2 separate regions of the Homo sapiens genome follow, and region 2 is linked to region 1. The links come from fine-mapping of genetic effects on gene expression. A gene starts in region 1. The other region holds a variant in brackets. All regions are shown on one strand. Distances are between the middles of the regions.

Region 1 (3,016 bases):
TTGTTGGGATTACAGAAGTACAACCGCGCCTGGCTTATACATTTTTTTAAACCTTTTTTTTTCTCTGTCCAAACAAAACTGTTTCATTAGCAGGCTGAAGAGAGACTGTGGTGTACAATAAAGAATCATTCTCGACCGGTATGGTGGCTCACGCCTGTAATCCCAGCCCTTTGGGAGGCCAAAGCGGGCGGACTGCCTGAGGTCAGGAGTTCCAGACCAGCCTGGCCAACGGGGCAAAACCCTGTCTCCACTACAAATACAAAAAAAATTAGCCGGGTGTGGCGGCGCACCTGTAGTCCCAGCTACTCGGGAGGCTGAGGCAGGAGAATCGTCTGAATCCCGGAGGCGGAAGTTGCAGTGAGCCCAGATCATGCCACTGTACCCAAGCAAGGGCGACAGAGCGAGATTCCATCTCAAAAAAAAAAAAAAAAGAAAAAGAAAAAGACCCTCCAGGATCTCGGTCTGTTGCCCATGCTGGAGTGCAGCAGCACGATCTCAGCTAACTGCAACCTCTGCCTCCCGGGTACAAGCGATTCTCCTACCTCAGCCTCCTGAGTAGCTGCGACTACAGGCGCACCGCCACACCCGGCTAGTTTTTTTTTTTTTTTAATTTTAGTGGAGACAGGGTTTCACCATGTTGCCCAGGCGGGTCTCGAACTCCTGAGCTCAGGCGATCCGACGCCTAGGCCTCCCAAAGTGCTGGGATTACAGGCGTGAGTCACTGCGCTCGGCCAGAATAATTGTTATTGAAGGTACTACTCTCTGAAATCTAAGGATGGGAAGAACTGATGAAGATGAGTTGGAGCAACAAACTCTTAACCCGCACACTATTTGTCTAGGATTTGGGAAGTAAAGGTAAGACCCTGGACTCAATCAAACCCAGGCTTTGGTCAACTAGGCAGCTGTCTGGGCTGAAGGGACTTCAATACCTCTATTGGTTGGTTAGGTGGAGATGTCAATGATGCGGGAAGAACTCGTGGACCACCTGCCCTGATGCTTCAGGGTATCACCTGACACTCGCAGGCACATAGTCCTCTCTTTCTGGCTCACTCCGGAAGGAATGGCCAAAACCCTGTGCCAGATTTTGCACAGGAAATAATGTCGAAGAAACGGACTCTCCATTTCCCAAACCTAGGACCTGCTGTTCAGAATTTTTACTCACCTGGACAGAAAATAATCTGGCGTTTCCCCGTGAGCTAGGCGTAAGAAAAAAAAAATCAACGAAGCAGACTAATAGCTAAGGAAGATTTCTGGGGTAAACTGCCCTCTTCAAGTACTCCAGATGCACATACCTTTACATAGTTAACAGATTGTTACCACCATCGAGTCACTAAGGTGCAAGAATCTATGCTAGGCAACTTGAGAATTCTCAAAAGATTGTGAGCAAAACATTTCTCGTCTCCGTTTGACAGCACAGAGACCGGCGAGTCCACACCAGCCCTGCCCCAGGCTCACCTCGGAAGAGGCGACCCCAACCTTCTCGGACTCGTACATGAGGGCCAGGGACCTGCTGGTGCTGGCGGCCGTGGCCTCAGCCCTGCGGAGGACCTCCTGCCGCAAGTACTGCTGCCTGTCCGCGGGCGCGTCGGGCCCGTCGGGGAGGTCTCGGGCGTCCCTCCAAGGGGCCGGCCGGGCGCCTTCGTCCTCCCCGTCGTCGTCGAACGGATTGTAGCTTTTAGGGTAAGCTGACATGGTGCCGGCGCGGCTCTCGGTCTGGGAAACAGAAGGAGGAGCCCCACTGCCGCCGCCGTCCAGGGCCTCGCCCCGCCCGCCGACCCCGCGGTCGTCGCGCGAACTCCTTCCGCGCGTCGCGCGCAGGTGGCCCCGCCCTCGGAGCCGACCATCGCGCAGGTCGGCTGGGGGGGGCCCACATCCGGCGCGCGCAACCGCAGCCTACTGTCCATCCCCTCTCTCCCCTGCAGCGGTGGGCCCGCCCCGCAGCCACGCCCTATCTAGTGTCAGCAACTGAGAGGTCACGTGGCGGGAAAGCCGGATGCACCTACGCCTGCGCCCTGAGGTCGGGCGCTCGCGGGCCAGGAGCGGGGAGCCGGCGGGCAGCGCCGCGGCTCGTGAGGTGATGGCGGCGGCCCCGGCCCGGGGAGGCGGAGGCGGAGGCGGAGGCGGCGGCGGCTGCTCCGGCTCCGGCTCCAGCGCCTCGCGGGGCTTCTATTTCAACACGGTCCTGTCACTGGCCCGCTCCCTGGCGGTGCAGAGACCAGCATCCTTGGAGAAGGTAACGTCGGCGGGCTGGGCCGCGGGCTGACAGGAGGAGGGGCTGGGGTGACGAAGCGTGGAGGCGGGACGAGGGTCTGTGGGAGGCCGAGGCTGGGCTCGCCGGCAGCCTGTGCGGGAGGGGGCGCCTGAGCGGAGGGATCTAGCGGGGGAAGGAGGCCCTAGTGGGAGGGGCTGGTGAAGAGAGAGGGACCGTGGGGGAAGGGTCGGCGGGGCCTGCAGGGCCGCTGCAGGTGGGTGGTTGTGGGATGGGGGTGGGGGATGTGAGCTGCTGGCCCAGGGAGCATCTTGTGACATCGCGGAGGTGGAGGCTGGATCGTGGGCGGCTGTGCGGAGCAGTGGGATGAGCCGAGGACCAGGGGTCAAGACCTGGGGTTCTGCTTCCGATTTCACCTGCTTTTTATTCCGCGACCTTGGGAAGATGGCTTTCTTGTAAAATGGGGATGCTTTTATCTGCTTTGCCGGCTTCACCGGACTGTGGTGACCAGGAGACGAAACACTGTCTTGAAAGTGCTTTGTGACTGTAAACCAACTGCGCAGTGTTATTCTACGAGGCTGGGGGCGTTAGGTTGGGTAAAAGATTGTGCGTTTGCAGAAGGGACAGTGGCAGGGAAAGGAGAGTGAACTGTCAGTGGGCAGAGAAGTGAACTTGGAATTGCTTCAGAAGAGAAAGGTGAAGTCATGCCAGAGCAATCCTCATCTTGGGAGAAAGGTGAAAGGCAACTCAGTGGTGTGCCTTGAGATCTGGAAAGAGACAGATTTTAGAGTGGGACCTGAATTTGTT
Region 2 (2,500 bases), 39 kb after region 1:
AGGAGAATCGCTTGAACCTGGGAGGTGGAGGTTGCAGTAAGCCAAGATCATGCCACTGCACTCCAGCCTGGGCAACAAGAGCGAAACTTCGTCTCAAACAAATAAAAAAAATTTAAAAATTATGTATAAGCTCATTGAGATGAGCTTCACATAAGCAGTGTGAAGTGGCTGCAGAAAAGCTAATGTCACATACATAGAAGTGTAGAATCTGTGATGAGTTTGGTGAGTATGCTGGGTGAGTTCCAGCATCCCAGATGTTAATGTATTTTATTCTGAGCACTACACTTCCAGACAGAAAACTGGACTACCGTAAAATCAGAAGCTGGCAATTAGCATTACAAAGGATTTATGATCATGAAGAATACGGTTGAAAAGCGCTAGGGCGTTTACCCATGAAAAGAGAAGATTTGGGGACCCATCACCTGTTTACAGAATATGTTAATAGAGGAAAAAGCAGCCCCAAGGGCTGGTAGGTACAAGCCCCAGGAGGACAACATTGGCCCAGTATTGGGAGGAACTCGGAACCAGCCCAGAGAGTGAGGGTTTTGTCCCTGGAAAGTCAGCTGGTTGGCCACTTGGCACAGTCGTTGTGGAGGGATGTATCATATATGGGGTTGGTTAAGATAATGTCTGAAGTGCCTTCTAATTCTGACTTAGTTTCGTGATATTTACCTAATTTTGTTTATGTTTTTTTTTTCTTGTTTCCTTGACTGTTACAGATTTTAGAGGTGCTTTTGCAGGTTTTGCATGTCCTCTTGGGGATGTGCCAGGCCTTGGAGATTCAAGACAAAGGTACGAGTATCCTTAAGGTTTTTCTTAAAATGGTTTTGTGGTTACTCTTTCCCTTGCTTTTCTCCAGTCTTTTCTGTTGTTGGGTACCTAATATATATGATGGGAGAAAACCTTCCTATTTTAGTTTGATTTGTTGTGTGTTAGTATCCTCAGAGGCCACATGGGGTCATGTGCATTGCTCTGCTACATAGACGCTGGGTCACCTTGGACAAGTAACTTCACCCTTCTGGGCCCCAGTTTCTTCACCTGTAACATCTGTGGGTAGATTAGTTGACTTCCAAAGGTCATTTTTTCTGTGTTGTGAGGCTACCAATATGCTCCTAAGAGGAATAAATGTATAAGGTACTTGATAATATGGCCTAGCTATTTTATTGATTTGGGT[G/A]TGCCATGAATAGATGAAGACCTTCCAAGCAGGGCAGCTGGGTGTATTGAAGTCATAGTCTGAAGTTGTTAATGACAGGTTGAAGATATCACTTGTCAGCCCTTGGGGTGGACCCCATTATTGTGGCTTATTGTGAACCTTCACAGTTATTAGTGGGTGGGTTGTGAAATCTTAGTCAATGTTACAAGTTAGTACTTACTATATGACTCTATCAGGATACTTTCTTATATTGTAACGTTTTCACTTGATCTTCTAGAATACCTTTGCAAGTATGCTATCCCATGCCTGATAGGAATCTCGCGAGCATTTGGGCGTTACAGCAACATGGAAGAGTCTCTCCTCTCAAAGCTCTTTCCCAAAATCCCTCCTCATTCCCTCCGTGTCCTGGAAGAGCTTGAAGGTGTTCGAAGGCGTTCCTTTAATGACTTCCGCTCCATCCTCCCCAGCAATCTGCTGACTGTCTGTCAGGAGGGTACCCTGAAGAGGAAAACCAGCAGTGTGTCCAGCATCTCTCAGGTGGGCCTGGGCTACTGGGGAAAGAGCAGAGGAGAAAGACCCTGTTAAGCTCCCCTGCGAAGAAAATCCCTCTTCTTTGTAGTTGGAGTAAACTTAAGTAACGTGAAATGTTTCACTAGAATTCTCTTTAATACAAAGACTTGTCTTGTCCCTCTTAAGATGTTGGGGGGAAGGGCTTATAGAGTGCACATATAAACTGGCCATAAAAATATAAAACAATGAGGTGTAAAAAGCCACAAAAGGCCTCTAAAAAAAAAGCCTTATCGCCATTATGTTCCCATACTCTGAGCAAGACTTACTCTCTTATCCATAAACACTGTGTTAAAAAAAAAAAAACCACTCCTTTAAAACATGAAAATATGGCCAAACATACAGACTCCTAGTTAAGCCTGCTCCCACTAACTGCTGTCCAATAAGTTGAAAATATACTGTTTAAACACAAAAAAAATTCATTTAAACTGCCGCTACTATAGATTACACATATGACACACTGCCTCCCTTTCACCGTTTCGCCCTAAACATCTGCTTCTTAAATCTAAGTGATTATACTCAATAAATAGTGTAAAAACCAAAACTCTAGGCCTTTGCGGCCTCTGATTTGCTCTGGTCCCCTGGCTCCCGCCTTTATAAACTCTTAACCTGTTTCTTCTCATTCCTTTGTCGCCACCAAACATCAAATACCCTACAGGTGGTGTTGAGGCTAGTCCCCAACATAAGATTTATAAGTGATTTCATAGTCATAAAGTATATGTTTCATAGCAGTTGGGTGCCAAATGCTATTTTGCCTGGAAGACAGTTGGTGCCCTTAAG

Evidence for each region. PIP is the estimated chance that this variant, and not a neighbour inherited with it, causes the effect. A credible set is the group of variants that fine-mapping cannot tell apart.
Region 2: its variant is the best candidate, but not a certain one, in a credible set for the expression of SNAP29 in whole blood (INTERVAL, PIP 0.53).

What each region holds. Positions count from the first base shown.
Region 1 is chr22:20,857,787-20,860,802 of GRCh38, reverse strand. It overlaps SNAP29 (synaptosome associated protein 29), which reads right to left and starts at 1,796. Exons shown (of 5, transcript NM_004782.4): 1 at 1,456-1,796. The coding sequence starts at 1,692. It overlaps PI4KA (phosphatidylinositol 4-kinase alpha), which reads left to right and starts at 1,992. Exons shown (of 55, transcript NM_058004.4): 1 at 1,992-2,233. The coding sequence starts at 2,078. RefSeq lists an enhancer at 1,065-1,874 and silencers at 1,554-2,313, 2,334-2,383.
Region 2 is chr22:20,818,831-20,821,330 of GRCh38, reverse strand. It overlaps PI4KA (phosphatidylinositol 4-kinase alpha), which reads left to right. Exons shown (of 55, transcript NM_058004.4): 5 at 720-792; 6 at 1,431-1,690. Among named protein-coding and RNA genes, the nearest start is that of PI4KA, 39 kb to the left of the region's middle. The variant G/A (reference allele first, on the strand shown) is at 1,175.